Regions from separate parts of the Homo sapiens genome. Here regions 2, 3 and 4 are each linked to region 1. Evidence: fine-mapped QTL for protein levels in blood plasma. A gene starts in region 1. Each other region holds a variant in brackets. All regions are shown on one strand. Distances are between the middles of the regions.

Evidence for each region. PIP is the posterior inclusion probability: the model's chance that the variant is causal. The UK Biobank Pharma Proteomics Project read protein levels with antibody pairs (Olink). The fine-mapping took linkage between variants from a reference panel, not from the people measured, so its PIPs are less certain.
Region 2: its variant is fine-mapped to the plasma level of the CA5A protein (UK Biobank, PIP above 0.99).
Region 3: its variant is fine-mapped to the plasma level of the CA5A protein (UK Biobank, PIP above 0.99).
Region 4: its variant is fine-mapped to the plasma level of the CA5A protein (UK Biobank, PIP above 0.99).

Annotation. Positions count from the first base shown.
Region 1 is chr16:87,933,991-87,939,135 of GRCh38, forward strand. It overlaps CA5A (carbonic anhydrase 5A), which reads right to left and starts at 2,539. Exons shown (of 7, transcript NM_001739.2): 1 at 2,319-2,539. The coding sequence starts at 2,460.
Region 2 is chr16:87,902,258-87,907,402 of GRCh38, forward strand. CA5A (carbonic anhydrase 5A) reads right to left here. Exons shown (of 7, transcript NM_001739.2): 3 at 2,529-2,647; 4 at 168-263. Among named protein-coding and RNA genes, the nearest start is that of CA5A, 32 kb to the right of the region's middle. The variant C/T (reference allele first, on the strand shown) is at 2,445.
Region 3 is chr16:87,855,406-87,860,550 of GRCh38, forward strand. The region is part of intron 1 of SLC7A5 (solute carrier family 7 member 5); the gene reads right to left. Among named protein-coding and RNA genes, the nearest start is that of MIR11401, 4.1 kb to the left of the region's middle. RefSeq lists a silencer at 530-718 and an enhancer at 5,100-5,145. The variant G/A (reference allele first, on the strand shown) is at 2,168.
Region 4 is chr16:87,891,179-87,896,323 of GRCh38, forward strand. CA5A (carbonic anhydrase 5A) reads right to left here. Exons shown (of 7, transcript NM_001739.2): 6 at 621-776. Among named protein-coding and RNA genes, the nearest start is that of SLC7A5, 24 kb to the left of the region's middle. The variant T/C (reference allele first, on the strand shown) is at 2,438.

The sequences.
Region 1 (5,145 bases):
CTCTAGCACACGATGTAAGAGGACATGTTGCCACAGTAAGAAATGGAATGCTACCTGCTGCCCACTGACAGGGAAATGCTTAAATAGACACAGGGCACCCACCGCTGCCTGTGTTAGCAACAGCAGCAGCTGGCGTCTAGCAAGGGCTTCCTGGAGCCATGTGCTGTCCCCAGCCTTTGCAGGCCCCACCTCGGACCCTTCTCCCAACGACACTGTGCCGTAAGCACCATTATCAACCCCCTGTTACAGACGACAAAACCAAGGCTGGGGGAAGTTAAGAAAGTCACAGAGGGGACAGCTGGGCGTGGTGGCTCACGCCTGCAATCCCAGCACTTTGGGAGGCTGAGGCGGGCAGATCACCTGAGGCTGGGAGTTCAAGACCACCCTGAGCAACATGGAGAATCCCTGTATCTACTAAAAATACAAAATTAGCCGGATGTGGTGGCGCATGCCTGTAATTCCAGCTACTCGGGAGGCTGAGGCAGGAGAATTGCTTGAACCTGGGAGGTGGGGGTTGCGGTGAGCTGGAGATCGCACCACTGCGCTCCAGCCTGGGCAACAAGACAGAAATTAGTCTCAAAAAATAAAGGAAAGTCACAGAGGGGCAACAGCCATAGAGCAGTGGGGCCAAGATTCCAATCTAGGCAGGCTAGCGCTCTTGACGGTCGTACTAAGAATAAAAAAGGGGGGTGGGTGCAGTGGCTCACGCCTGTAATCCCAGCACTTTAGGAGGCCGAGGCAGGTAGACCACCTGAGGTCGGGAGTTTGAGACCAGCCTGGCCAACATGGCGAAATCCTATCTCTACTAAAAATACAGAAATTAGTTGGGCGTGGTGGCACACGCCTGTAGTCCCAGCTACTTGGGAGGCTGAGTCAAGAGGATCGCTTGAACCCAGGAGGCAGAGGCTGCAGTGAGCCGAGATCGCACCACTGCACTCCAGTCCACAGGTGTGGACCCCAACAGGAGGAATGAGTGTAGCTCACTCAGAGTCTGGGGTGGGCCAGGCTTTCTACACGCATCGTGTCATCCTTCCATGGCCCTGGAGAGAAAGTCTGGCCACCCCCATCTCGAGATAAGGACACAGAGGCTTGGGGGTGAAGACCTGCCGAGGCTCCACCTCAGCAAGCGTCAGTCGGACTGCATGCCTGGGGTCTGGCTCCTAAGCCCATGCTCTTTCAATGGCCCAAACATGGAATGCATGGAAGATTTCAGTTAGAAGAGAACTTGGCAGCTGCCAAAGCAGGCTCTCATTCTACGGAGGAAGCACCTGAGACCCAGAAAGAGGAAGGGCCTCGTTCAAGGTCACAAGGCACTGACCATGAAGCCAGGAGGGGCTGGCACGGGGCAGTTTCTTGGCAGAGCTGGCTGAGTGGTTTATTTGTTACAGGTTTGCTTGAAAGCGTTCTCTGCCGAAGAGTTTAGGAGCGATCGTGACTGGTTAGTGCAGCCCATTCCGCCGGGTCTGGATGGTGAGTCGTGCCAGTGTGTCCCGTGCGAACACGGACTACCCGCCTGCTCCCAGCATCTTGCCCTCCCCAGGACCCCTGAAACGGAGGCTAAATGATTCACCCAAGGTCACCAAATACAAGAGAAACGGAGTGTGGCCAGGCGCGGTGGCTCACGCCTGTAATCCTAGCACTTTGGGAGGCCAAGGTGGGTGGATCACCTGAGGTCAGGAGTTCGAGACCAGCCTGGCCAACATGGTGAAACCCCATCTCTACCAAAATACAAAAAATTAGCTGGGTGCAGTGGCGGGTGCCTGTAGTCCCAGTTACTTTGGAGGCTGAGGCAGGAGAATCACTTGAACCTGGAGGGCAGAGGTTGCAGTGAGCCGAGATCATGCCATTGCACTCTAGCCTGGGCAAAAGAGCAAAACTTCATCAAAAAAAGAAAAAAGAGGGCCGGGCGCCGTGGCTGATGCCTGCAATCCCAGCACTTTGGGAGGCTGAGACAGGCGGATCGCGAGGTTAGGAGTTCGAGACCAACCTGGCTAACACAGTGAAACCCTGTCTCTACTAAAAATACGAAAAATTAGCCAGGAGTGGTGGCATGCACCTATAGTCCCAGCTACTCAGGAAGCTGAGGCAGGAGAATCGCTTGAACCCGGGAAGTGGAGGTTGTGGTGAGCTGAGATCACGCCACTGTACTCCAGCCTGGGCCACAGAGCGAGACGCCATCTTAAAAAAAAAAAAAAAAAAACGGAGTGGAAATCTGAACCCATCTGGCTCGGGACGGTCTCTCCTCTCTCCTCTCGAAAGACCCCATCAGCTAAGACAAGGATCCAGTCGCATCTTAGGAAATTTGAGGCTCTACTTACAAGTGTTATTGCTGGTTTGCCATGCACAGGAACGCTGAGAACACCATCGCCCTGGCCTCATCGAACGACTCCAGAGAGGGGCCCACATCTGCTCAACCAAGAAGGAGAAAGCTGAGGTCTTCCAAGTGTTCCTCCCCAACATCTTGGGTCTGTTCCCACTGACTCCAGTCTGAAGAGGGTGATGTTCCCTGCTGTCTGTTCTCACTTTGATCAGGACCACTGTGGACTGGCGTGTACCCACCTCTTTTTGTAGAAACTCATCCCAACCCCTGAGCCTAATGGTTAAAGTTCAACCCATGCCTTTCCCAACAGGGTGGGTCCACAGGGATTAGTGGCCTCTGCTGGGGACAGGCCACTCAGGTCACTGGGCTTTGATCTGGCAAACAGGAGCACAAGTCTGCCAGGGAGCTAGAAAAACTGTACGGTGGGGCTGCGTGAGCACCAGGGGATTACGCGGGAGGCGGGGGCGAGTGGATGAGAGCAGAGTCCCTGTTTCTTTCATGGGGTTGACCGTGTGGTTTGGGGCTCCGGGACACTCAATACCAGGCACAAAGCCATGGTGTGCATGTGAGGAGGGACTGGCAGGCAGGCTCAGAAGTACAGGAATGGGACTGGCCAAAGCGCTGCTGGGTAGACAGGCCAGGGGAGCAGGGAGCTTCTGTCCACCCACCAGGGCTCCTGAAGTCATGGAGTCCTTGCTTGCCTTAAAATAGGTGCGATTTGATTCATTCATCCTCCCCGGAAGCAAGATGCCCTGTGGCTTCGGACACTTCCAGGTCATGCCTGCTGTCTTGGCATAAACATTAACAGGGCCACCTTTCTTTCTTTCCTTTTCTTTTTTTTTTTAGACAGAGTTTCACTTCTGTTGCCCAGGCTAGAGTGCAATGGCGTGATCTCGGCTCACTGCTACCTCTGCCTCCCAGGTTCAAGCAATTCTCCTGCCTCAGCCTCCTGAGTAGCTGGGATTACAGGCGCCCACCACCATGCCCAGCTAATTTTTTGTATTTTTAGTAGAGATGGGGTTTCACCACGTTGGCCAGGCTGGTGTTGAACTCCTGACCTCAGGTGATCTGCCTGCCTCGGCCTCCCAAAGTGCTGGGATTACAAGTGTGAGCCACTACGCCCAGCCTCTTTTCTTCGTTTCTTTTCTTTTCTTTCTTTCTTTTTTTGAGATGGAGTCTCGCTCTGTTGCCCAGGCTGGAGTGCAATGGCGTGATCCTGCCTCACTGCAACCTTTGCCTCCCAGGTTTAAGCAATTCTCCTGTCTCAGCCTCCTGAGTAGCTGGGATTATAGGCACACACCACCACAACGGCCAATTTTTTGTATTTTTAGTAGAGACGGGGTTTCACTGTGTTCCCCAAGCTGGTCTCGAACTCCTGAGCTCAGGCAATCCACCCACCTCGGCCTCCTAAAGTGCTAGGATTACAGGCATGAGCCACTGCGTCCAGCCTCTTTTCTTTTCTTTCTTTCTTTCTTTCTTTCTTTCTTTCTTTTTTTTTTTTTTTTTGAGGTGAGGTCTTGCTCTGTCACCCAAGGTGGAGTGCGGTGGTGCCATCATGGCTCACTGCAGTCTCAATCACCCAGGCTCAAGTGATCCTCCCTCCTCAGCCTCCCAAGTAGCTGGGACTATAGGTGCATGCCATTATGTCCAGCTAATTTTAAAAATTATTTGTAGAGGCAGGTTCTCGCCATGTTGCCCAGGCTGGTCTTGAACTCCTGGGCTCAAGCAATCCTCCCAGAGTGGCCTCCCAAAGTGCTCGGATTACAGGCATGAGCCACTGCCCCTGGCCTGGTACCTCCCTTCATGCCCAGGGTCCACATGGGTATGTTAGCTGGTCACTCTAGCCAGGCAGCTGGTGATATTTGCAGACGCCAACCCACAAAGAACCTTCCTTTGGGTCCTTTGAGCGGCACAGCAGTTTATTCACCCAGACACCTTTTACCTGTGAAATGGAACCCATGGGATTGGGATGCACCAGTTTGTGACTTCTTGTTGTTGTTTAAACTTACAATCTTTTAGGGGGCAGGGCTATCATAACTTTTCATAGAATCCTGGAATCTTAGATCTAGAAAACCCTACAGAACACAGGTGTTGAAATGCGAGTCCACTTGTAGGCTCCTGAAAGCCCAAGAATCCCACTGAAATCCCCCACACAATGGATAGGGTCTGCGGCTTTCGGCCACTGCTCTGGTGGGCCCAAGAGTTTGCTTGCATTTGTTTTGAGCAACAAAAACCAAGTCTGGATGATATGTTCTCTCCTTCCCACACAGTCATGGTGGAAATGCACCCACTCTTGGGAAGTCTGATTCATTGTCATTCATTCATTGACCCACTCACTCATTCATTGACTCACTCACTCACTCATTGACTCACTCACTCATTCACTCACTCACTCATTCATTCACTCACTCATTCATTCTCTCACTCAGTCAATCATTCATTCACTCATTCATTCATTCATTCACTCACTCATTCACTCACTTATTCATTCACTCACTCATTCACTCATTCACTCATTCATTCACTCATTCACTCATTCATTCATTCACTCATTAATTCATTGGCTTTTGCCTCCATTTCCTCATCTGTAAAGTAGGGAAGATTCTAGGATTCCATCATACACGATAACACTCTGTCGAGCTGTTGTTGACACAAGTGATGTCCTTAGAGCGGCACTTTCATTGCTGCAGGCCAAGCTCCCACCCCAGGCATTGCCAGCCCCATGTGAGCAGGGGCATCTCCTGAGTACACTCACCTGGGCAGCCGATGATGCCCCACAGGCTCCTGGGGCATGTCCTCTGCCATCCTCAGCCGTCCTGCCCTCT
Region 2 (5,145 bases), 32 kb before region 1:
GCAGGAGAATCACTTGAACCCAGGAGGTGCAGGTTGCAATGAGCCGAGACTGTGCCACTGCACTCCAGCCTGTGTGACACAGCGAGTCCTGTCTCAAAAAAAAAAAAGCAATCCTAATGATGGATCACCACTTTCTTCATTAGATCTACACCCGAGCAAGTGATTACCTTTAAAAACACGCCTATCACAGCCAAACCATTCTCTCCCACGACAGCTTCCTTGTAATTTTGGTATTTCACAGAATTCCAGTGAACTAAATGCAGCTGAAACACAATGGAAAGAGAACTTAAATTGATCAGCAAGAAATAAGACAGTCACTTCCCCTTCTGAATGGCTGACCTATGTGTCCACTTAATCATAATGAAATGGCCAGGCGCGGTGGCTCACACCTGTAATCCCAGCACTTTGGGAGGCGGAGGCGGGTGGATCACGAGGTCAGGAGATCGAGACCATGCTGGCTAACATGCTGAAATCCTGTCTCTACTAAAAATACAAAAAAAAAAAATTAGCTGGGCGTGGTGGCGGGAGCCTGTAGTCCCAGGTACTCAGGAGGCTGAGGCAGGAGAATGGTGTGAACCCAGGAGGTAGAGCTTGCAGTGAGCTGAGATTGTGCCACTGCACTCCAGCCTGGGTGACAGAGCGAGACTCCATCTCACAAAAAAAAAAAAAAAGAACTAAGTTGTTGCAGCCAGATGAGTAAGATCCCAGCACCAGCAGCACCTCTGAGCTCCCAGGCCCTTGACGAAGCCACAGGAAGGAACAGCCTCAGTCTTCCTGGTGGGGGGGGAAAGGAGAGGATCATGTTAACCTCATCCAATAGAAATGGGTGGTTTCATTATTTTCTACTTCCTAGTTATCCTTGGACAAGAATTACCAGAAGAAACTCAGGCCTCGGCTGGGCGCGGTGGCTCACGCCTATAATCTCAGCACTCTGGGAGGCCGAGGTGGGTGGATCACGAGGTCAGGAGTTCAAGACCAGCCTGGCCAAGATGGTGAAACCCCGTCCCTACTAAAACTACAAAAACTAGCCAGGCGCAGTGGCAGGTGCCTGTAATCCCAGCTACTCAGAAGGCTGAGGCAGGAGAATCACTTGAACCTGGGCAGCAGAGGTTGCAGTGAGCCAAGATCGTGAGATAGCGCCACTGCACTCCAGCCTAGGCAACAGAGTGATACTCAGTCTCAAAAACAGATAAATAAATAAATAAAATATCTGTTCATCAAAAACAAAGTTGCAGATAGAGATACTAAAATAAAAGTCATGTTGTTAAATGAAAGGAAGCACACAGAAGCCATTGTTGTGCTCATTCTTGGAACAATTTATAAATATGTGTATGATGATGACAATAGATATCACTCCCTATTTATAAAATGTCCGGAGGTCACCTCTGGGTGTGAGATTACAAGCAATTTTCATTTTTTGGTTTGGGTGGACTCTAGTTCCACATTAACTGCAGCATTACTTTCATAACAACAACAAGTTCAAAAAACAGAAAGAGTCCTCAGCTTGAAAAAGCATCAAAAAGTTAGGTGAGTGGGTGAGCAGAGGTGTGATAAAGTGAATATGGCAAAAATGATCATCACAGGACTGAGACATCAAACTCGTAGATTCTTCTCGTTCATTTCTTTTCATTTTTTCGTATGTTGCAAAAATTTCATAATGAAATATTTGGGGAAATCTATAAGGCATCACTTATCACCCCAAAAAAACTACAAAAACCAATTCCCAACATTGATATGCACTGATTTTCTCTACTGACTCCCACTTTGGAAGGTTGAAAATAAGACTGCTTTAAGATGATCTTAGCCGGGTACGGTGGCTCACGCCTGTTATCCTAGCACTTTGGGAGGCTGAGGTGGGTGGATCACTTGAGGTCAGGAGTTCGAGACCAGCCTGGCCAACATGGCGAAACCCCATCTCTACTAAAAATACAAAAATTAGCAGGGCCTGGTGGCACGCACCTGTAATCCCAGCTACTCGGGAGGCTGAGGCAGGAGAATCGCTTGAGCCTGGGAGACGGAGGTTGTGGTGAGCCAAGATTGCACCAATGCACTCCAGTCTGGGTGACAGAGTGAACCCTGTTTCAAAAAAAAAAAACCAAAAACCAAAAAACAAACAAACAAACAAACAAAAGAAGATGATCTCTATTGCAAAGATGTTCAGCTTCTCAGCAGAGGGCCTTGTGGATTTGCTAGTCCCTACAGCTGCAAGCACACAGCTGAGTGAAGTGCGGCAAAGAGCTCAAGCTCTGACTTTGCATCCCGGCTGTCTGGCTTTGGCAAGTTCCGTAACCATTCAGAACCTCAGTCTCTTCTTCCGTTAAATGAGAGAGAACTTACAGCGCCTTCCTCGTAGGAGAGGTGTGACTAAACGGGTGGGGCGGCCGACGGTTCTGGTTTGAGCACTGACAGTCCCAGGCCCCAGGAAATCCTTCACATCTGAGCGG[C/T]GCGCATGGCTTGTTCACCCCCCACCATAGAGCCGGAGACATGGAAAGTGTGCAGATATGTGCTGTTAGGCCACGTCTACAAACCTCTGCGGGGTACGCGTGGCCGTCCACTGTGTGCTCTGAGCCCCCCTCGTTCACTGCTCCCCAGTGGAAGTGAAATTGCTTCAGTCTGTAGTGGTTTTCCAAGGGCCCACCACTAATTCCTGGAAATAAAGGCAGTGAGACGTGTGTGTCATTTTGTCTGTTTGTTGAGCTGTGGTGTTACCTGAGGCATTGTCTACATTAGGGTTATATGAGTTCACTCGCAAGGGGTTGCTGTATGGTTGAAGTGACAAGCCAAAGGTGGGCTCCGTGAAAGGTGGGCTCTGTCTGTCCCATTCACTCTGCCCCCCCCCAGCCCAGCGCCTGCCCAGAGGTTCACAGTAAATGTGGAATGAAGGCAGGGTCCCAGTGCTGCCACTGGGTGGTGGTGAGGGCCTCAACTCCCTGCAGGCAGAAATCCGTAAAGAACGTTTCTGTGATGCCTGCCTGTCCTATAAGATTTCCAGACTTTAATTAAAAAAAAAGGTGTCTTCCAAATATTTTTTAAAAGCAGCTTAAATCCTATCACCAAATAACATTATAAAATAACACACAATGAGCAAAGTTTTTGTTTTGTCTTGTTTTGTTTTATTTTAAGACAGAATCTTACTCTATTGCCCAGGCTGGAGTACAATGGCATGATCTCAGCTCACTGCAACCTCCACCTCTGGGTTCTAGTGATTCTCCTGCCCCAGCCTCCTGAGTAGCTGGGATTACAGGCATGTGCCACCAGGCCAAGCCAATTTTTGTATTTTAAGTAGAGACGGGGTTTCACCATGTTAGCCAGGCTGGTCTCAAACTCCTGATCTCAGGTGATCCACCCGCCTCTGCCTCCCAAAGCGCTGGGATGACAGGTGTGAGCCACCGCTCCTGGGTGAGCAAGGTCTTTAAATAAGAAGACCCTGAGCTGTAGCATCAGTCCTGATCTCTGGCAGTCCCTGCTTAATCTAGGCCCACCACAGGGCCAGCTTTTATTGGAACACTCCTTCCTTCCTAAGTCACCCTAAACACTCACCTTGGAGTCAGCACTCTCTACCTGCAGGCCTCGGGGTGCCCCTCTCCATGGCACAGTGCCAGGTGCAGCCTCCCAGGAGCTTGCTTCTCCTGACATGTGGGGCTCAGCCATAAGCATCGCTCGCTGAGGCCTCTGGCTCTGGCCCCCAGAGTCATGGCTGCCATTCCCACGTCCAGGTAGTGCTGGGAGTCTGCCTTTTAACGAGCTCCCCAGGGGTTCGGATGTGGGTGGCTTCTCCTGTGTCTAAGTACTTTGTCACTAACAGATTTCCATCAGCAGCTGCTACAAATGGGGTACCCGTTCCACACGTTTTCACTGAAAGCAGCACAGCGTGCTCCTGGGATGGCTGGGCAAGGCTGGAAGGCGCCAGCAGAACTGGAGCACTGATCCCGAATTCAGGGTGGCCCGAGTGCCTCCCATAGCTGTGGAGGAGCCTCATGTCACCTCCCGCTGTGGCAAAAGCCAGGAAAGCACTGAGCGCGTGATGAATGCCTTGGGGAGCTTGACACTGCTGACTCCTGGTGGTTTCCCGACACCAGAAGTACTTGGGCTGGGCGTGGTGGCTCACACCTGTACTCCTAGCGCTTTGGGAGGCCGAGGCGGGCGGATCACTTGAGGTCAGGAGTTAGAGACCAGCCTGGCCAACGTGGTGTAACCCATCTCTACTGAAAATACAAAAATTAGCTGGGTGTGGTGGCGGGTGCCTGTAATCCCAGCTACTCGGGAGGCTGAGGCAGGAGAATTGCTCGAACCTGGGAGGCGGAGGTTGCAGTGAGCTGAGAACGTGCCACTGTACTCCAGACTGGGCGACGGAGTGAGAATCAGTCTCAAAAAAAAAAGTACTCATAGTTGGAGGCACCAAGGTGTAAACTGGAAAATGGAAAATGGATTTGGCTTTAGTCCAGTCAGGGGCTAGGCAAGTGCTGGACCAAGCCACAGAGCTGCTCACTGCCCCTCTTCACTCAAAATCTCAGTGTTGGTCTGGAGCAACCTCAGAGTCATATCTAGTTTTAAAATTCTACCATTATGAGCAAATCTTCTATTCTCCTTAAACATACACAGATGAATTACATCTCAATTTTTAAAAATACACAGAAAGAGTCCTTCCCACAATAAGCACATAAAATCACTTTGTTAGGCCAGGCACAGTGGCTCACGCCTGTAATCCTAGCACTTTGGGAGGCCAAGGCGGGTGTATCACTTGAGGTCAGGTGTTTGAAACCAGCCTGGCCAACATGATAAAACCTCATCTCTACTAAAAATACACAAAATTAGCCAGGTGTATTGGTGGGTGCCTGTAATCCCAGCTACTTGGGAGGCTGAGGCAGGAGAATCGCTTGAACCTGGCGGGTGGAGGTTGCAGTGAGCCGAGATTGCGCCAATGCACTTCAGCCTGGGCGACAGAGTGAGACTCTGTCTCAAAAACAAAACACAGGCGTGAGCCACCGTGCCTGGCCTCCAAAACACAATCTAAGGAACTTACAGAACCACAAAATGGGAGCACGGTGAGCTCTGTGCTCGCTTCTGCCTCGGCCTGTGTCTGTGGGGGAAAGGGGGTTTGCAGCCGACCAGCCCCAGCAGCATCAAAGTGCATTGATGGGTGAC
Region 3 (5,145 bases), 79 kb before region 1:
GACAGGTGCATACCGCTGGCTGACCCCCCAACTCTGCTCAATCACACACGTGCACACACACGCACAGCACCCCCACAACTTGTAAACCAGGAGGCTGCCTTCTCCTGGCCCCTGGCCTTACCCCTCTCCCCTCGGGGGGATGACTCTCTGAGGTGCCTCCCTGCCTGATGCCCGTGAACGCTCACCTCTGCGGCAGCCGGCTCTGCTCACCTCCCCTGATGCTGGCATCTTGGTCTCCTGGCCCCAACTCTGTCCAGCTCCTGATAAAATCCCGCTACAAGCAAAGGGATGATCCCCCAGGGTCCAGTGTTGGAGGAGAGGGGTGGGGGAAGGGCCAGTAACAGGTGTGTTCAATATGGAGAGCAGGTGGGACCTGTGGGCCCCGGCTGGGTGGGGACCCCGCAGGCCCCATGAACCCACCCCACACGGACTAATGCCTGATTCTTTCAGGTAATAAACATGTACCAGGTACAGGAGCATCCGTGGATAGGGTTCAGGGTCAGCCACAATGAAAATCCTCTCTGTTGGCCACAGAGGCTGCTCCCTGGGCCGCCGGTCCTCACCTGCCCCCGAGCCAGGCACAGCAGTGAGTCCTGCAGGGCTCAGCACCTTGGCCTGTCTGTAAGTGGGAGTACCCAGTGAACATGATCCTCCCGGGCCCCTTCGAGCCCAAACACAGCCACTGTGAGTGCCCCAGGCAGGCGTCCAGCCCAGGCAGGCATCCTGCAGTCCCTTCTGTCATTTTCAGACCCAACAGAAACAGAAGTGCTCCTGCCAGGCCCCCGAGGACTGCCTCCAGGAGTCATCTGTAATGACAGGCTGTGTTCCGCGCACGGTTTCAGAGTCTGTCCAGAGGGCCAATGCTGGGGCTGGGGCAGAGATGGTCCAAGGCCTGTGAGCTGTGCAGCTTTATAGGCAAATGACGATTGTTTACCCAGAACTGCCTGCTGGAGACAGCACAGAGGAAGTGGCCGGCAGCTTCATCAGTTCCAGGAAGCCCAGGCAGCCTGGTCCCCCAGGGTGCACCGGGCACAGCAGTTCGCACGGGGCCGGAGAGCGGCAGCTGACCACAGCAACTACAGCTGGCCCGACACCGGGCACAGGTACCAGCCCAGCCCAGTCCCGCCCAGTGCAGCCTGTGGCCCCTAGCGGAGCCAGCACCTGGCAAACCTGACACCCAGCCTTGGAGCTTGGGCCCCCCTCTGCAGCTGGCTGGGGCTCCTGAGACAGCTTCTTTGTCGGAATCCACTCGGTACGCACAGGGCCCCGAACTTGGTGGCTGCCCAGTGCACATGGGGCTTTAGTAGAACCAGTACCTTCCTCCCTGGCCCCTTCAAGTCTAAATATCCCCTGCTCTGAGTACAAGCCTCCACCTTCTCCACCGACAGACAGCCCCCACCATCTCCCGTGTCATCCCCCGGGGGAACTTATAAAAGCAGTGGTGGGGGAGGCGGATGGAAACCCAGAGCTTCTGATCAGGCAGGTCCGGGAGATGGAGACAACACATCTGCACAGAACAAGGTCCCAGGGAGGCTGGTGCTGCCGGCCTGGGGAGCGCCCCCAGCACAGGCGCGTGCTTCCCTGATGGACACGTCACCGCCCCGGGCTCCAGAAAATGAATGTGTCTGACCCAGTGACCCCTGTCCTCACCCAAGGCCAACCTCACCCCAGAATGGGCTGGAATGCCAAGCCTGCCCATGCCGGCTCCAGATCCACCTGCCTCCCTGCCACTGCTGGCCAGAGAGAGAGGTCAAAGTGGTCCGGAAACCCCAAGGAAAATGAAGCAGTTCCGGGGCAGGGAAGCAAAGGCAGCGTTCACATTTTTTTTTTTTTTGAGACGAAGTCTCGCTCTTGTCGCCCAGGCTGGAGTGCAGTGGTACGATCTTGGCTCACTGCAACCTCCGCCTCCTGAGTTCAAGCCATTCTCTCACATCTACCTCCCGAGTAGCTGCAGCCTCCGCCTCTGGGGATCAAGTGATTCTCCTGCCTCAGCCTCCTGCCTCAGTAGCTGGGATTACTGACACCTGCCACCACACCGGCCTAATTTTTGTATTTTTAGTAGAGACAAGCGTTCACCATGTTGGCCGGGCTGGTCTCGAACTCCTGACCTCAGGCGATCCGCCCACCTTGGCCTCCCAAAGTGTTGGGATTACAGGCGTGAGCCACC[G/A]CGCCTGGCCGGGATGGTCTGCTTATAATGGCTCAATTTTGATGCCCAGTCTCTGCAGAGCACAAGGCCCCACCTTTGGGCCGGACATACAGATGTCCCTGGGCAAACAGAGAGATGATCCCAAGGCCCTGGCCCCACCTGTCTGCTCAGTGTTGAAACAGATTTCTGTGAAAACAAATTACTAACAGGCTGGTGTCACATTTTCAAATTCTGTCACCAGCCCTTGAACACATGTCTTTGTACTTTTTTCCATTTTTAACCGGGGCTGAGTTACGCCCAACCACACTGTCCTGGCTGGCACGGGGGAGGAGGTGTCAGCTGCTGTCCAGAATGGGGCTGACACATTCATTTTAAACAGGCCAGGAAGATGCAGATTTGGCAAGCTCTGAAATTTGCCAACATCCCAAGTCCAGGGTAAGCAGGAGAACTGGAAAAGGGCAGCTTCTCATGTGGTCAGGTTCTCCTGACACAAGCGTCCTGGTGGATTTGGGTTTCCCAAGGGTCCTGACTCCAGGAGACCCCCAGGGCTGACAGGAAGGGCCACCGCTCCCTCTGAAACTCTGAAACCAGGCCACCCGGTGCTGAAATGCTGTGTGAACTCCGGCAAGTTCCTTTGCAGGGACTGAGCCTCCCTTTCCTGTTTCCAACAGACTGGAACAACTGCCTCCTGCTGCATGGGCGAAATACCTCGCGGACGTGTCTTACGGCGCCCCATGAAAGCATCACCATTAATCTGACCAGTCACCGCAGCATGAGTATCTTCAGGGCACAGATGAAGCCGTGGGCACCAGTGATAAGGAGTTGCCACTGCTGGCTAAGTGCGGAGCCTCACACATCTGTGGTCCGGAAACCCACGCCCCACTCCAAACCCTCTACAGCTCCAACAGTTATGCTAACAAGAAAAAGGAGTGAAAACCCGCTCCAGTCACGGTATTGTGGAGGTGGAAGGACACTTGTGGCAGCCAATCCAACACCTCCATTTTATAGCCGGGGTAAACGTAGTTCAGAGAGGTTGTCCCACTTGGTGAAAGTCACACAGCAGTTCCTGGGCGGCAAAGTGAGGACATCCAGGTCTCCTAAATCTCACCCTCGTGCTCTGGCCACTTGACTGGGATTTTCAATCCCGGCTGTCAAAGAGAAGCACCAAGTCCACTTGGGCTCCTGGCCAGCGTCCAAGCCAGTCCAACTCAACAGCAAGCGGAAGCAAATACCACACAATGAACTCGTTGAACAGACTCTGCGCTCAGGCTTAACCAGTGCACAGCCTGTACACCCGACAGGAGGATGCAGCTGTTCCAAGCTAAGGCCAGGGCCTCTCCCCAATCCCGATGGGCTCTGCAGATGCAGTGATGGAAGAATCCCTGGTGACGGGGAGCCCTTAGCTCTGAGCAGGACCTGAAGCCATCTCAGGGCTTGCACCGGCCCAGATGCTGCTGCACAAGTGCTCCAGGGGCTCCTGCCCTGCCCTCCTCACCTGCCCCCTCACCTGTCAGGGATGTTTGATTCCTGGCTGGCCCCTCCCCTACCTGACCCCTGCCAAAGACCCACGTCACCCCAGGCTTCCAGCTCTGAAGCAAACGACCAGAGAAGTCAAGCGCCTGGCTCCGGGCCACACAGCTTGAGGGACTCAGAGCTCCAGGGACAGTGCCCGGGCCCTGCTCAGGCCTTCTGCAGAGGCCCTGGGCTCTTCCAGTTGACTCAGCTCACAAGGCCCCTACACGGTAGCAGGTGAAGACAGGGCCCCAAGAACCCTCAGGCTCTGAAGCCACACATGAGAGCCGTGGACAGAATCCTGCATTGGCCTCCAGCAGCTCGAGAGCACAGGGACAAAGCTGGACTGGCCCCGGGGTCACCATGGCCTTGGTTTTGTAGCAGCTGCAGTTTGAGCACGTACACCAAAAATAAAATTCTAAGCCCCGTAACTGACTAAAGGGACCCCTCCTATTGCCAAAGGGATATTCCAAAGTTAACCTGAAAAACGAGCTCAGGTCACGATGGGAAGAGGGGGTCACACAGGCCTTGTTATACCCCCTCCCTCTGGAATTCAGGTACAGCGGACCAGCACTAACACTCAAACACAGATCTTGGCCTGGCTCAGTGGCTCATGCCTGTAATCCCAGCACTTTGGGAGGCTGAGGTGGGCAGATCACGAGGTCAGGAGTTCGAGACCAGCCCGACCAACATGGAGAAACCCCATCTCTACTAAAAATACAAAATTAGCCAGGCATGGTGGCGGCAGGCACCTGCAATCCCAGCTACTTGCGAGGCTGAGGCAGGAGAATCGCTTGAACCGGGTTGCAGTGAGCTGAGATCATGCCACTGCACTCCAGCCTGGGTGACAAAAACAAAACAAAACAAAACAAAACAAAACACAATATTCGTCTCCACAACCTCCTGTCTTACCCAGATACTCCTTTCTATTGATACCAGGTCTTTAGCTAATAACTCTTTCAACCAATTGTGAATCAGAAAATCTTTTGCCAGGCACGGTGGCTCACACCTGTAATCCCAGCACTTTGGGAAGCCAAGGTGGGCGGATCACCTGAGATCAAGAGTTCGAAACCAGCCTGACCAACATGGTGAAACCCCCGTCTCTACTAAAAACACAAAATTAGCTGGGCATGGTGGTGCATGCCTGTAGTCCCAGCTACTCGGGAAGCTAAGGCAGGAGAATCACTTGAACCCAGGAGGCGGAGGTTGCAGTGAACTGAGATCATACCACTGCACTCCAGCCCGAGTAACAAAAGCATCTCAAAAAAAAAAAAAAATACACACACACACACACACACACACACACACACACACACACACACACACACACACACACATATATATATAAAGAAAAAGGAAATCTTCGAACCCACCTGTGACCAGGAAGCCCATCCCCGCCTTGGAGTTGTCCCGCCTTTCTCGGCAGAACCAACAAATACCTTTCATGTACTGACTGATGTCTGCCTGTAACTTCTGTCCTTGTAGGA
Region 4 (5,145 bases), 43 kb before region 1:
AAAAGGAGGCCGGGCTCGGTGGCTTATGCCTGGAATCCCAGCGCTTTGGGAGGCCAAGGTGGGCAGATCACCTGAGGTCAAGAGTTCAAGACCAGCCTGGCCAACATGGTGAAACTCCGTCTCTACTAAAAATACAAAAATTAGCCAGGCGTGGTGATGGGTGCCTGTAATCCCAGCTATTTGGGAGGCTGAGGCAGGAGAATCGCTTGAACCCAGGAGGTGGAGGTTGTAGTGAGCCGAGATCGCACCACTGCACTCCAGCCTGGGCGATAGAACGAGACTCTGTCTCAAAAAAAAAAAAGGAAAGAAAAGAAAAAGGAAGAAAACAAAAACCATGCAGACCCATGACCCTGGGACAACTCCCATGGATGCCTCGTGTGTCTGTGTGTGATAGATTAGGGCGTTGCTCAGGACATGCTTGCTGTGATCACTGGAACCGCTGTCCAATCTCAACAAGCTCCTACTTCAGTTGGAATTTTCTTCTTGTGTAAGAATGCCCCAAATGCATGAAAGAATATATATAACTCCACAACGCTCTCATGCAGCATCTTAGTGACGCTGCCAAGCAAGAGGGACGCCTTCCATGAAGCGCCATCGTGCCAGTTACGGGCACGGCTCACCTGGCTTGGGGCCACTTCAACGGGCTCCTTCTGGATGATCCAGGTGACCGACTCGGTCAGCGGCGGGGTGGTGAGCGAGCCCGCGTAGGTCCAGTAATCCCAGCAGGTGGGCAGCAGAGTGGAGGGGTCGAAGGGGCGCATGGCCGCCCGCGCGTCCTGAGAGACCGAGAAGCACAGGACGTGTCAGTCCTCAGGGGAGACTAGGAGCTTCCATCTTGTCTCAGCACGTGAGGCCTTCATGGTGCTTGGAAGGAAGTGCTTTCCCCCAGATAAGGCCATGAGGCCACTGCTGTCACACTTGCAAGCAGTGATGAGAAAATGTGACCCTTCTATACAGAGCAAGGATTCCTGCCAACTTACATTGGTGGGAATTACGTTACATTACACCAGCTTACGTTGGTGCTCACATTTTTCCTTTTGAAGTCATTTCTTGGGGCGCAGTAGCTCACCCCTGTAATCTCAGCACTTTGGGAGGCCGAGGCGGGTGCATCACTTGAGGTCAGGAGTTCGAGACCAGCCTGGTCAACGTGGTGAAACCCTGTCTCTACTAAAAATACAAAAATTATCCAGATGTGGTGGTGGGCGCCTGTAGTCCCAGCTACTCAGGAGGCTGAGGCAGGAGAATCGCTTGAGCCCAGGAGGCAGAGGTTGCAGTGAGCCGAGATCATGCCACTGCACTCCAGCCTGGGCAACAGAGTGAGACTCTGTCTCAAATAATAATAATAATAATAATAATAATAATAATAATAATAATAATAAATTAATTAATAATAAAAATAAAAATAAAGCCATTTCTTTTAGCATACCTTGGCTGCAAAAAATATTACTTTTTATTGTGATAAAATATACATAACATAAAATTTACCATCTTAACCTTTTTTTTTTTTTTTTCGAGATGGAGTTTTGCTCTTGTTGCCCAGGCTGGAGTGCAATGGTGTGATCTTGGCTCACCGCAACCTCTGCCTCCCAGGTTCAAGCGATTCTCCTGCCTCAGCCTCCAGCGCCTGCCACCACGCCCAGCTAATTTTTGTATTTTTAGTAGAGACAGGGTCTCACCATGTTAGCCAGGCTGGTCTTGAACTCCTGACCTCGGATGATCCACCCGCCTTGGCCTCCCAAAGTGCTGGGGTGAGCCACTGTGCCCGGCCTATGGGCTCCTTTTTAAGGAGGGAGTCATGGTGGCCAAGAAGGATGTCCACATGCCTAAGCACCCGGAGATGGCAGACAAGAATGTGCCCAACCTTCATGTCACGAAGGCCATGCAGTCTCTCAAGCCCCGAGGCTGCCTGAAGGAACAGTTTGCCTAGAGACATTTCTTTCTTTCTTCCTTTCTTTCTTTCTTTCTTTCTTTTTTTTTTCAGACAGAGTCTCCAGGCTGGAGTGCAGTGGTGCGATCTCAGCTCACTGCAGCCTCTGCTTCCTGGGTTCCAGCGATCCTCCTGCCTCAGCCTCCCTAGTAGCTGGGACTACATCTTCACGCCATCGCGACCAGCTAATTTTTTATATTTTTAGTAGAGACGGGGTTTCACCATATTAGTCAGGATGGTCTCGATCTCCTGACCTCGTGATCTGCCCACCTCGGCCTCCCAAAGTGTTGGGATTACAGGCGTGAGCCACCACGCCCGGCTTGCCTGGAGACATTTCTACTGCTACCTTACCAATGAGGGCATCCAGTATCTCCGTGATTACCTTCATCTGTCCCTGGAAACTGTGCCTGCCACCCTATGCTGCAGCCGTCCAGGGACTGGCAGGCCTCGGCCTAAAGGTCTGGAGGGTGGGCGACCTGCAAGACTCACAAGAGGGGAAGCTGACAGACA[T/C]ACCTACAGACGGAGTGCTGTGCCCCTGGTGCCGACAAGATAGCCGAGGCTCGGGCTGGGTCAGCAACCGAATTCCAGTTTAAAGGCAGATTTGGTCGTGGACATGGCCAGCTACCTCAGTAAAATCAGAGAGGATTATTTTGCATTGAATACACTCACAGCCAAAAAACAAAAAGAGTCAGGGTCTTACTTTGTCACCCAGGCAGGAGTGCAATGATGCCATCATAGCTCACTGCAGGCTCTAATTCCTGGGCTCAAGCGATCCCCCCGCCTCAGTTTCCCAAGTAGCTAGGACACCACACCAGGGTTTAAAATTAATTGTTTGTAGCCAGGGGGTCTTGCCATCTTGCCCAAGCTGTTCTCCAACTCCTGGGCTCAAGCGATCCTCCTGCCTTGGCTTCTCAAAATATTGGGATTACAGGCATAAGCCACTGTGCCCAGCCAGCTCTTTTGGATATATACCCAGAAGTGTGTGATTGCTGAATCATAGGGTAGTTCTATTTATAACTTTTTATTTTTTTTATTTTTTTTGAGGCAGAGTCTCACTCTGTCTTCCAGGCTGGAGTGCCGTGGCATGATCTCAGCTCACGGTGGTTGGGCCTGGCCGCAACACAGCCCTCATCAGCGTCCCATGCCAACCAAGCATAGCTCTGCACCTGCCCCTGGCCAGCACTGTGGGACAAGAGTCCAGTCCAAAGTGACAGAGTCCCTGTCTGCAAGGAAGATGGCCTCCCTGCTCAGCCACATCACATCACCTTGACTTTGCTGGGCCCTGGCCTTCCAAGGTGGAAGCTGGCAACCCAGATGCCTTGGGCTTGTCTCCTAACATCAAGCAGTGAGGGTCAGGGTCAAGAGAGGTGGCTGAGCTACCAGAAGGAAGCCCGGGAGTGTCCACACTGGCAGACACATGCATCAGTTCTATGCACGCATGTTCACGTTTATAATTATCCAGTTAATTAAAAAAAAAAAAACAGCATTATAGGCTGGGCACAGTGGCTCATGCCTGTAATCGCAGCATTTTGGGAGGCCAAGGCAGGCAGATCACCTGAAGTCAGGAGTTCAAGACCAGCCTGACCAACATGGCGAAACCCCATCTCTACTAAAAATACAAAAATTAGCCAGGCATGGTGGCAGGTGCCTGTCATCGCAGCTGCTCGGGAGACTGAGACACAGGAACTGCTTTGGCACAGGATGCAGAGGTTGCAGTGAGCCGAGATGGCACCATTGCACTCCAGCCTGGGCAACAGAGAGAGAGACTCTGTCTCAAACAACAGCAGCAGCAGCAAAACCCACAGCATTATTGTGATAGAATTCACATACCATGCAACTCTCCCATCTAAAGTGTACAGCCTGGTTGGGCGCAATGGATCATGTCTGTAATCCCAGCACTTTGGGAGGCCGATGTGGGAGGACTGCTTGAGGCCAGGAGTTTGAGACCAGCCTAAGCAACATAACGAGACCCTGACTCTACAAAAAATACAAAAACTAGCCAGGTGCAGTGGTGCACGCCTGTGGTCCCAGGTAGTTGGGAGGCTGAGGTGGGAGGATGGCTTGAGCCCCGGAGGTTGAGGCTGCAGTGAGCTGTGATCATACCACTGCACTCTAGCCTCGGTGACGGAGTGAGATCCTTTCTTAAAATAAGTAAATAGGCTGGGCACGGTGGCTCACGCCTGTAATCCCAGCACTTTGGGAGGCCGAGGCGGATGGATCACCTGAGGTCAGGAGTTCGAGACCAGCCTGACCAACATGGCGAAACCATGTCTCTACTAAAAATACAAAATTAGCCAGGCGTGGTGGCGCATGCCTGTAATCCCAGCTACTCGGGAGGCTGAGGCAGGAGAATCACTTAAACCCGGGAGGCAGAGGTTGCAGTGAGCTGAGCTCATGCCATTGCACTCCAGCCTGGGCAACAAGAGTGAAACTCCATCTCAAAAAGAAAACAAAAAACAAAAAACAAAAAAAGTAAATAAAAATTGAAGGGTACAGTTCTATGGTTTTGGGTATATTCACAGTTGTGCAGCCATCCCAAGTCAATTTTAGAACTTCCACCTCAAGGGGGAAGCTTGGTACTTTTTAGCTATGGTCCCCACCCCCGCCCTGCTGCTTCTGTCTCTGTGGGTTTCATAGGAACTGAGTCATGTAACATGTGGAACATTTGTGTCTTGTGTCTCTCACTCAGCACGGCGCTTTTGAGGCTCACCCACACCGCAGCATGAGTTAGAGCTGTGTCCTTTCTGATTGCCAAGTAATATCTCACTGCATGGTCTAGCTGGGTTGACATCCCATTGCACGCTCTAGCTGGGCTGTGAAGGAGCAGACTGCTTGTGCATGTGGGTAACAGGCGGGTGTGCAGTGAGACATCAGTCTGGTGCACGTGGGTAACAGGCGGGTGTGCAGTGAGACGTCCGTCTCCTCCTGCCTGCCACACATCCCCAGGGCACAGATGTGCCAGTCACTTTCTGAGCAACTACTTCAAATCTTCAGAACAACCCTTTGAGAAGTATTTCTAGTTTACTGATGAAGATAGACAGACAGATATAAAAAACTTGCCCAAAGCCACGTTGCCAGTCAGGGCCACTGAGGCCTGGCCCGTTCCGAGGTGCGGGCTCTTCCTTCCCTCCCCAAGGCTGCAGGAATCAGTCAGGGGAGTGGCAGGCTCCAGCCATGCCACTGCGGGTAGGTTTCTTGCCAATTAAGCTTTCTGCCTT